3 linked regions of the Homo sapiens genome follow. The protein of the gene in region 1 interacts with the protein of each later gene in a pairwise test. Each region holds a gene or a part of one and is shown on either strand. Other genes may lie near its edges.

What was found.
Region 2: the proteins of CA12 (region 1) and KATNBL1 interact in a two-hybrid assay, tested with the Homo sapiens proteins (one large-scale study listed by IntAct).
Region 3: the proteins of CA12 (region 1) and RDH11 interact in a two-hybrid assay, tested with the Homo sapiens proteins (one large-scale study listed by BioGRID and IntAct).

What each region holds. Positions count from the first base shown.
Region 1 is NC_000015.10:63,379,597-63,383,348, forward strand, and holds the start of CA12 (carbonic anhydrase 12 isoform 1 precursor), read right to left. Parts: upstream 2,251-3,752; 5' UTR 2,125-2,250; coding exon 2,040-2,124; intron 1-2,039. UniProt on the Homo sapiens protein: Reversible hydration of carbon dioxide.
Region 2 is NC_000015.10:34,144,008-34,147,659, forward strand, and holds part of KATNBL1 (KATNB1-like protein 1), read right to left. Parts: intron 3,424-3,652; coding exon 3,373-3,423; intron 3,283-3,372; coding exon 3,193-3,282; intron 2,844-3,192; coding exon 2,754-2,843; intron 1,485-2,753; coding exon 1,391-1,484; intron 1,246-1,390; coding exon of another isoform or gene 1,231-1,245; exon of another isoform or gene 962-1,230; intron 1-961.
Region 3 is NC_000014.9:67,682,200-67,685,851, forward strand, and holds part of RDH11 (retinol dehydrogenase 11), read right to left. Parts: intron 3,006-3,652; coding exon 2,816-3,005; intron 1-2,815. UniProt on the Homo sapiens protein: Retinol dehydrogenase with a clear preference for NADP. Displays high activity towards 9-cis, 11-cis and all-trans-retinol, and to a lesser extent on 13-cis-retinol.

The sequences.
Region 1 (3,752 bases):
GGGAGGCTCAGCCTGAAACCTGTTAGAACCTGCAGACCCAGCTGGTACTGGGCAGGGAGGTTCCCCTGGAGGGAATGCCCAGAGAAAATGGTATTTACCAAGATCCATATCAGAGGTCCTGGGCCCTGCCTGCTTCCTGTGCTGGGTGCTAGAACTTTCCCTGAGTAACCATCTCCTGGGTAGCCCAAGACTGCCTGGCTCTCCACACCAGGTTTGGGCAGGGCAAGCTCTGCAGAATTCACTGAAATGCCCCCCAAAGCCACGGCAACTAAGAATTCCAAGGGTTTCTCCAGAAGACACTTGACTTCACATTATTATGCTCCCTCCTGGGCCCCTGACATTGTTCTTGAACATTCTCCAATGCTGGAAGTTTAAATGCACCAGGCAGAGAGCAGATCACACTTTGACCCCATTACTCAGCTTAACTCCTCTCCACCTCCAACTTTGGGTTCATGCTGACATTCTACACCTCAGTGATTTTTGCTTTGACCTGTCCTCTAAGGCAGTTAAAAACCCAAGGAAACTGCATGAGAATTTACAGAATAAAAGCTGTGCTCTACCCAGGGGTAGGCAGTCTCCTTCCTCAGAGTGAGGCGAAAGTGGAGTTTTGACTACAAACTTCCCCAGTCCCAACTTGGAGAATTGGGAGAGGAGATAAGGAGGAGGGAAAGGGAGAGGGAAGAGGAAGAGCAGGGAAAGTAGGGAAGAAAGGAAGGGGAGGGAGGGAAGAGAACAGGGAAGGGCAGGAAAAGAGAGAGAAGGGAGGCAGAGCTGCCCCAGAGTGAGAGGAGCAACCAGCTATAGGAAAGAGGGCCAACTAATGGCTGTTTCTCCCTTTGGTCTTGGAGCAACTTAGGACTAAAGAGATTTCCAGGGAAACTTTGGTCTCAGTGCAGCTTTCGTAAAAGGAAACATGTAAAGTTTGTGGTTTTAAAACTTGATTTTCACTTTTACATCGCTCCTTTCTCCCAACTTCTGTTACATCGCTTCTGTTTCTCCCTGACCAGATGAGGGAGATAATATCAAGCACATCATGCCAGCTAGTTGACTGGAATTTAATTAAGAGTTATCCACAGCCTGGCTCCCCTGCCCTTCCCCATGGGCACTGTGACCTCCAAGAGAGGAGGCTCAGAGCTTTTATGCTGCTGAGCAGGACACATTTCCCACCACCACTGCCTCGCCAGGAAGAATCTAGTTTCAGCCAGTAAAATCACTTTCGGTCCAAAATCACTTTCTTATTCCAAAAGATTAATGAACCAGCCTTGGCTGTACACGTGTTAGCTCACTGGCCCGGCGTGAGCCCACAGTTCAGGTCCCCTCTGCCACCTCCTCCTGTCACTCCACGGAGCCTCCATTCAGTCCCTCAGCCTCCAGCCTTTTGGGATTTAGTGTTCTAATTACAATCAGAAATATGCTGTGTGTGTGTGTGTGTGTGTGTGTGTGGTTTGTGTGCGTGCGCGCGTGCGTGTGTGTGTGTACGTGCACACACACGTACATTCAGCATAGTAGAGCCCTCCTGGAGAAAAACAATGATTAAGAATGGGATGCATCATCCCTTTGACTTGTAGGTAAGACTTAATGGTAAAGATCCTCTCCTCCAAAGAAAAGCGCCTACCACTGTCTGCGGGTTCTGCACAGGGGCACAGCAAACCTTTCTCTGTGCTTACCCCAATCAGAATGCCACAGTCATGTCTCTACTTTCTAAACGTGGATCAGGGGAACGCTGTTTTAAATCTTGGCTTTGCATCTCCTCCCTGGTTAGCAAGTTCCCAAGCCACATCTTCAGAGCTGGCGGTGCCCGGGAGTACACGCAAACATTTTAACACCAAATCTGCGCCAAGCGCCACTAGAAAGCAACGTGCTTCCCGACCCAACCTCAGCAAAGGAAAACGGAGCATCCTTTCTTGAGAATCTACTATTTGGTACTACACCTTCCCTGCTCCCCGCAGCAATGATTTTACTTTATCATTGAAGAGCCTTCAGCCCAGGGGCGGCTGAGCGCTCAGGAGTGTTAGGAAAGAAGCAGGCGGAAACTTTACCGTTCACTGGGGCCGGGCTGGAAGGCTGTTCCTTTAAGATCACCAGCAGGAGCACGGCCGCCGCGTGCAGGCTGCGCCGGGGCATCTTCGCGGGCTCCTGCGGGGCGGGCGCGGGCTGTGCCGGGGGCTCCCGGTGGCCGCTCGCTCTCCAGCTGCACACCGGGACCGCGTGCGCGCAGCCTGGGTGCCGTGGCGAGTACGTCCGCCCTTCGCTCTCCTGGCTTCCCCGGGCAGCTTTTATGGAGCAACTCAACGCCAAACACTTGATGTCATCGTGCGGGGAGGGGGTGGGGGAGGAGAACGCCCTGCCCACCGGAGGGCTGGCGCCCCAGATCCTAGGTGAGTTGTAGCCTTGACTTCAGCAGCACTCTGCGGGTCCCCGGCGCTCCTCTGGGCCAGGGCTGACCCAGGAACACAGTTCTCCGAGGAGCTGCTGGCAGGCGTGGGTGAGATCCGCCTGTCTCACATCCAGAAGGGTGCGTCTAGGGATTCCTTCAGTGGCATGCCCTTGGTCTGTCACTGGTCCTGTAACAGCCCAACGAGTTCACCTTGCCCGCTGCTTAGACAGAGCCCATTTATCAAGACAGGGGAGTTGCAATGGAGAAAGTAATTCACGCAGAGCTTGCCGTGCCGGAGACCGGAGGTTTTCGTTCCTTTGTTTGTTTGTTTGAGACGGAGTCTCGCTCTGTTGCCCAGGCCGGAGTGCAATAGCGTGATCTCGGCTCACTGCAACCTCCGCCTCCCGGGTTCAAGCGATTCTCCTGCCTCAGCCTCCCGAGTAGCTGGGATTACAGGCACATGCCACCATGCCCAGATAATTTTTGTATTTTTAGTAGAGGCGGGGTTTCGCCAGTTTAAGGCTGGCCTTAAACTCCCGACCTCAGATAATTCACCTGCCTTGGCTTCCCAAAGTGCTGGGATTACAGGCGCCCACCACCACACCCGGCTAATTTTTCTAATTTTAGTAGAGACGGGGTTTCACCATGTTGGCCAGGCTGGTCTGGAACTCCTGACCTCAAATGATCCACCTACCTTGGCCTCCTAAAGTACTGGGATTCCAGTACTCAAATCAGTCTCCCCAAGCATTCCGGGAGTTGTTTGTTTGTTTGTTTGTTCAGACGGAGTCTCCCTCTGTCGCCCAGGCTGAAATGCAGTGGCATGGTCTTGGCTCACTGCAACCTCTGCCTCACGGGTTCAAGCGATTCTCCTGCCTCAGCCTCCTGGGTAGCTGGGATTACAGGCACGCGCCGCCACACCCAGCTAATTTTTGTATTTTTAGTAGAGACGGGGTTTCACCATGTTGGCCAGGCTGGTCTTGATCTCTTGATCTCGTGATCCACCTAAAGTGCTGGGATTACAGGCGTTGAACCACTGCACCCTGCCTCTGGGAGTTTTTAAAGATAATTTGGCAGATAGGGGCTTGGGACTTGGGGAGTGCTGATTGGTCAGGTTGCAGATGGGATCACAGGGGGGTTGAAGTAACGTTTTCTTGCAGTCTTCTGTTCCTGGGTGGGATCGCAGAACTGGTTGAGCCAGATCACACACGGTCTGAGTGGTGTCAGCTGATCCATCCAGTGCAGGGTCTGCAAAATAGGATGTTAGATTTTACAATAGCGATGTTATCCCCAGCAGCAACTTGGGAAGGTTCAGACTCTTGCAGCCTGACGCCGCAGGACCCCTAAACCATAATTTCTAATGTTGTAACTAATAGAT
Region 2 (3,652 bases), about 29 Mb from region 1:
CCCACACAGTGGTAACAAACTTGGTTGATATATCATTTTGCTTCTTTTTTTTGAAGGTATCTGAGAAATTTTTTTTTTTGGGAGAGGGGCCATGGTCTTCCATAGCAATGGCCAGAGCTCCTCTGTGGCTGTCACTTTGACAGGAGATAAGCTTCTGGTTGGTCACTGTTGGTATCACTCCCATTTGCTTTTCTTCCCTCAGCTACATTAATTCCCTGAAAGCTTCTGTCTCCTGTAAGAGCTGAACTTATCTTGGAGTAGAAGCCAGATTATCCCTCAAGGCTACCTAGGTTTGCCCAAGCCTCTGTTTCCCTTAGCATTGTATTTTTTTCCCCCTGAATTCTAAGAAGTTGTTTTGTCTCCGAGAAAAATGTTATAACTAAGTCCATGACATAAATCCTCTTATTTAGAAATATATATATATATATATTTTTAAAACCAAAGAATGCTTTTTATATTCCTGGCTAATGCCCATTTATGATAGCAGTATGCCCGGTAATAAAGTAAAAGTATTTCTTAATGACAATTTTTTCTTCAATTAATTTTTAACTACTAATGTTTTTTCTTTCTTTTTTTTTTTTGAGACGGAGTTTCACTCTGTTGCCCAAACTGGAGTGCAATGGCACGATCTCAGCTCACCACAACCTCCGCCTCCCAGGTTCAAGTGATTCTCCTGCCTCAGCCTCCCGAGTAGCTGGGATTACAGGCACGTGCCATCACACCCAGGTAATTTTTTGTATTTTTAGTAGAAACGGGGTTTCACCAACCAGGCTGGTCTCGAACTCCTGACCTCAGGTGATCTGCTTGCCTTGGCCTCCCTAAGTGCTAGGATTACAGGCGTAAGCCACTGTGCCCGGCCTAACTACCAATGTTTTCTGGAGTTTAAATATTAAAATTCAAACTAGCAATTTTTACTTTTTCCTTTACGAGACAAATCAATAAAGACCAAAGTCAAATTCACTGTGATTTAAATAGTTTACCTTCTCAAAAAGCATAACATTAGCAAAAGTAAAACTTAATCTCCAAAACCATTTAATTATGTTTCTTATCCCTTGTTTCCTGAGTTCCTCGTCTTGTTTTCTGATGCTGTCCTTATTGGATTCTCAAAATTTTTTCAAATACTTTTCTCTGATTAAAACCCTCTGTAAATATCCTCTAGCATAGCATTTCAGGGGCTGTACATGAAACATGTTCAATGGCCAATTCCTGTGCTTGCTGCCAAGGTCACAGTTACACGCAGAGGACCTGAAGCATTTGAAAATATGAAATTGACTTTAGACATTAGAACAGTACCATATTATTTTGCCTAGAGACTTGAAAATTAATTTATAAATGTAAAATATTATTTCTAATTTTTAATGTTTAATTTATAAGCTTAAATATAGATTACCTTAGCTATATTACCAGTATATCCTGGAACCAAAGTAAGATGGTTTTCCTGTTCCCATAATCCACTTAATTGTTGTTTTAAAATTTGAATATTTCTAAAAGAAAAAAAAGGAAGAAAAATGAGAAAGCAAATACATTAAGATACAAACTTTCATCATAAATATGCATAATAAAAACTGTTCTAAAATTTTTCAGGTATTTTTCAGGAGAAAATGATGCTATTTGAAATAAAACATTTGGGAACGTGGAGAGAAATTAAAAAAAAATCAAATAACTTTTAGAATAATACATGTCAGTCATGAAAATTAAAGGTTTATCCACATAATACCGCCAAATGCCTCCTATTTAATTAATTCTTGGAAACAACAAAGGATGTTTTTTCAATTCCAAAATTAATAAAATTTCTTACTTGATTTCAATTAAAAAAAAAAAGAAAATTAAAGGTTATTTAGTTGTCAAAGCAGGTAAGAAAATGACCAGGCGTTTGGAACATTTGGACATTCCTTGGTGTGAAGTAGAAAATTTTGAGAGCCTACAAAATAAATTGTGGCTTTTTTTTTTTTTTTTTTTGAGACAAGGGCTGGCTCTATTGCCCAGGCTGGAGTGCAGTGGTGCCATCTCGGCTTACTGCAACCTCCACCTCCTGGGCTCAAGCGATCCTCCTGCCTCAGCCTGAGTAGCTGGGACTACAGGCGCACACCACCATGCCTGGCTAATTTTTGTATTTTTTGTAGAGACGGGATGTCATCATGTTGCCCAGGCTGTCTCAAACTTGTGAGCTCAAGTGATTTGCCCTTCTTGGCCTCCCAAAGTGCTGGGATTACAGACAGGCATCAGCCACCGTGCCTGGCCCAAAATTATGGACTTTAAGGAAACTGTTGGGAGATATTTTTCTGTGGTTTCATGATAATCTGGCTATACTCTGGTAGAATACCCACGAATTTTCACATCAAGGCAGTAATAATACAGTTTTTAGAACTGTAAACATCAACACCGGACTCTCAGGTTAATGTCTAGGTAAAGGACCCCGCAGGGTGCCTCCATTCCTTATTACACTGTGGGCATCTCTTTTTCCTCCCTTACTCATAATGAATATGAGAATTAAACCACTATTGTGTTTTTCTTCTAAAATGAAGGGTAGGGTTGTGCCAGAAGAAGAGATACAGGAGGTTAGTAGGCTCTGGAATTCAATTTCCAGGTGTGGTTTTCACAAATGAACAGTCTCTTAAGTTAGTATCTCTCTGAATATAAAAAGAATAAATACCATACACTGATGATAATGGGATAAAATTATTACCTAGTTTAATCAAGCTGCTTTCCTGAAGAAAATTTCAGCATGAGTTTATCTTTAAAGGTATACTCACCCATCATTTATAATTTCTGTTTTGGATGATAGTTCTGACCACCACCTTTTAATGACTGCTTGAAGCCAGTTTAAACCAACTATAACATATCTGAAATGACATTTTGTTACAAAATTCAAGTGTTTTCATCTAAGAACCCTTCTTATAAAAGATGATACTTTCCCTCCCAAAAAACACACACACACATTGGTCCCTTCCCTTTTAAAAAATTGTTACCTTCATGATCTATTACACAAAAGTATATTTCATGTAATTTGTTTAGAGATGCTTTTATAATTGTCCTTTAGTCATTTCATATTCTTTTCCTAATTGTACTATTAGCTTCTTGAAAACAGAAACCTTGCATGTCTCATGGAGCCCAATCTACTATGTACTCACAAAGCACAAAATCAAGGATGCTGAAAAAGAAAAATGAATCAAGATTCAGATTAGCACTTACTCTTCAAATTTGCTTTTAAGTAGTGACTTTACTAGAGGCAACAAGTCAACACAGCAGCCAAGTGAGATATATTGTTTTTCTTCCTGTAAACTAAAATAAATACCAAGTTATAAAAATATGGATGGGCCATAATTTGACCTCCTTTAATCTTATTTTTTTTCTGAAAAATATTGTTTTTACCAATTGGTGAGCACAGGAAGGCAATCTACCACAACGCCAAGATCTTCTATCCTGAGAGTATAAAAAGAATAGCATTGCCTTAGAGAGCTGATTTCCTTATTTACTTTCATATTATGATTATTCACACCGCTTTTGAGAAATTCATTCATTTAACAATGTCAGTATCTACAATGAGTCATGTCTGTGGATACAGCAATGAACAAAGACACAGGGCTTGTATTCCAGTGTGTGAGCAACTGTGGGGGTTGGGGGGTGGGACAGAGACAGGCAATAAACAAAT
Region 3 (3,652 bases), on another chromosome or scaffold:
TGACCTTGGGTAAGGCAATGATTTCTTAGATATGACTGCACAAGTGACAAAAAATAGATAAACTGGACTTCATCAAAATTTAAGTTTTACATTTCAAAAGATACCATTAAGAAAGTTAAAAGACAACCCACAGAATGAGAGAATATTTGCAAATTATATATCTGACAAGGAACTCGCATCTAGACTATTAAGAACTCTTGTAACTCAACAATAAAAAGACAATTATCCAACTTAAAAATGGGCAAAGGACTTGATAGACATTTCCCCAACAAAGAAACAAATGAACCAAAAAGCGCATGAAAGAATGTTCAACATCATTAGTAGGAAAATGAAATGAAAATAAAAACAAGATATTCCTTCATACTCACTAGGATGGCTAAACTCAAAAGGAGAGACAATAACAAGTGTTGCTGAGGATGTGAAGAAATTAGAATACTCATAGACTGCTGGTGGGAATGTAAAATGGGGCAGTCATTTTGGAAAAGTTTGGCAGTTCCTCAGCAGTTAAACACAGTTACCATATAACCCAGAAATTCCACTTCCATGTACCCAAGAGAAATGTCCACACAAAAATTTCTACACAAATGGTCACAGCAGTATTATTCAAATAGCTAAAAAGTGCAAACCCAAATGCCCATCACCTGATGAATGAATAAATAAGATGTGGCAAATCTATACAATGAAATGTTATCCAGCAATAAAAAGAAATGAAGTACTGACACATGCTTTAGCATGGATGACCCTTGATAACATTAAGCTGAGTAAAAGAAGTCAGTCACAAAAGGCCACATACCATATGATTCCATTTATATGAAATGTCCAGTAAAGGCAAATTCTTAGAGACATAAAGCAGACTAGTGGTTGCAGGCAGAAAGAAGAGCCAGTGCAAAAATCTTAAGGCTTCAATCAAAAGACTTTTATGTTCATTTCTTGATGGTGGTCTACACGGCTGCTGTTGGATCTTCAAAATGAATTAAGAATCCATAGCACAGGAAAGGCTCTTCAAAAGTCAATCCAATAGTAAGTTATGGATTTAGAGCTGACTTTCTTTAAACCACTCAGTCAAAACCAAGATAAAGGGTTATTTTTTTTTTTCTTAAAATCTCTAGGGAAGAAGAATCCAGTCACTCTTGGAAAATCAATCCAGTATACTATATAAATCTATCTTCTTATACTTCAGAACCACATTTCCAACTATCTGCTATACATTTCTACTTGCATGCCTTATAGATAACACACATGCAACATGTACAGAGCCAGGTTTGTTACACAGTGGACAACTGTTACTCTTTGGCTGAACATTCTACTTTGTTTCGGCAATAGCAACCTGATTTCCTTCTGCAGAATCACCTTTTCCCCTCAATATAGTTTGAAGAGAGCATTAATAAAGTCCCTGTTTGCCTCTAATCAAAAGAGTAAAAATGAAGGGATAGGAGGAAGGAGATCCAATGCTTCCTCCCTAGAGAATGGATGATAAGCAATACAACCTAAACACTAAAGATAGCTGGCATTCGCTCACTCTAGCAGCAATGCCCCGGCTGGCTGACTGCCACTCTGACACTTCTTAGCCTGGCTCTTCAGTCTTCCCTTTCAACCTAGGGGTCCCTCCTCTCCCTACTAATATTTTAATAAATTTCCTTCTTGCTTAAGCTAGACAAAGTCCCTTTCAACTGCTTTGGAATCCAAGAACCCTAAGTTCCACACATTACTTTTCCATGTCTGCTGTCTTAGTTAATGTCATCATCAACCTCATTCAGGCTTGAAATTCAGGTTAGCAAAGCCTCCCTCATCCCCTCATTTAATTAATCATCCAGTGATAAAAATTCTGCTGCTTCAGGGCCTCTTTCACATTACCATTCCTTTCATTACAACTTTCTGAAACTCTCTCTCTCACTAGGTTAATTATTCATTCATGAAACAAAGTTGCTAAAGCACAGACCAGATTTTGTCTGTCTACTGAAACAACTCTGGGGCTCCTCCACAAGGCTGGCATTATAGGCCTCTCATAATCTGTCTGCCTTTCTTTCCAATCTTAATGCTATTTTCAGCTACTTCCTTAAAATTTCAGGTCATTTCAACAATAACCTGAAGTAGAGGTAAAAACATGTTAAAATTTTGATCTTATGTGATGCCTGGGATTTGCTTCAAAATAATATGGGAGAAGAAAAATATGGAAAGGGGTAGAGAATGGGGATAGGGCAGAATTGGCCATGGGTTAATGGTAGCTGAGGCTCCATTATATGCAGGCTCAGTGCACTATTTTATCTAACCCTGTGTTATATTCAAAATTCTCTACATTTAAATCATTTTAAATGTCTTCGCTTATTTGAGAGGGGAGTCCATAGTATTTCAATCCTGAGGACAATAGAGAAATGCAGATTCAAATTCTTTTTTTTTTTTTTTGAGGCGGAGTTTCACCTGACCTTAGGTGATCTGCCCACCTTGGCCTCCCAAAGTGCTGAGATTACAGGCGTAAGCCACTGCGCCTGGCCTCAAATTCTTTTTAAATTCTTTTTAATGTAAAACAATAGAATTAGGAATCCAAAAAAGAATAAAGAAAACTGGACTGACATAACAAAGACAGGAAGAAAACAAACAGAATGCATAATTATCAGTATAAAAGATGGCATAAAATCAAATGTAGCAGTTATTACAAAAGAGAGTCAAATTCCCCTACTAAAAGGTAAAAACTCTAGAGTTAAAAGACAAAAGCTATATGAGACAATGTACTTTTAAAAAAGGGTATACCCAGACAAACCCAAATTATCTCCTTTGAGCAATAAATCTCATCTGCAAAAAGAGATAACATTCATACCTGAAATGATTCCCACTTAGAATCTCAAGACCTTCTGTTAAGGCACAGTGCAGGCTGGTCTGGGCTCCCTGCTGAGGAGTCTTGATGAAAAAGGAGAAAAGCCACCACATCCATCTCATGAAAGATGAGTGCCGAACCAGTTCAGATTGGACTGTGCCAGGGTGTACAGAATACGTCGTAACGCCAGAGCCTGGTTGGGGGTGGCATGAAGAGAGGGTAAGACAGGACTTGATTTTGCAGAATAGCCCAAAACAGAAAAGGATGTAAATAAGCATGTGACCTTCACATATGGACTCTTTTGCCCATGGTGACATCAGAAGTACTGCTCACAGTAATTTATACTTCCATCTCACAGATCTAAGAAGGCTCTAGAGTAGACAGTGCTAAGGACCTCTGTGTATTTCTGACTGGAAACTCAAGTCAGGAATCAGCAGAGCCAAGACTCATCCTCTCAGCAGCACTTAACATCGTTGACCACCCCCTTCTTTTTTAGAGATGGGGTCTCCCTATGTTGACCAGGCTGGTCTTGAACTCCTGGCATCAAACAATCTTCCCACCTTGGCCTCCCAAAGTATTAGGATTACAGGCATGAGCCACCACACCCACCCCATCCCCTTCATTTTTTTGAGACAGGCTTGCTGTGTTGCCCAGGCTGGAGTGCAGTGGCATGATCTTCCTTCTGCCACTGCCTTCCAGGTTCAAGCGATTCTCCTGCCTCAGCCTCCCAAGTAGCTGGGACTACAGGGGTGCGCCACCACACCAGGCTAATTTTTGTATTTTTAGTGGAGACGGGATTTCATCATGTTGGCCAGACTGGTCTTGAACTCCTGACTTCAA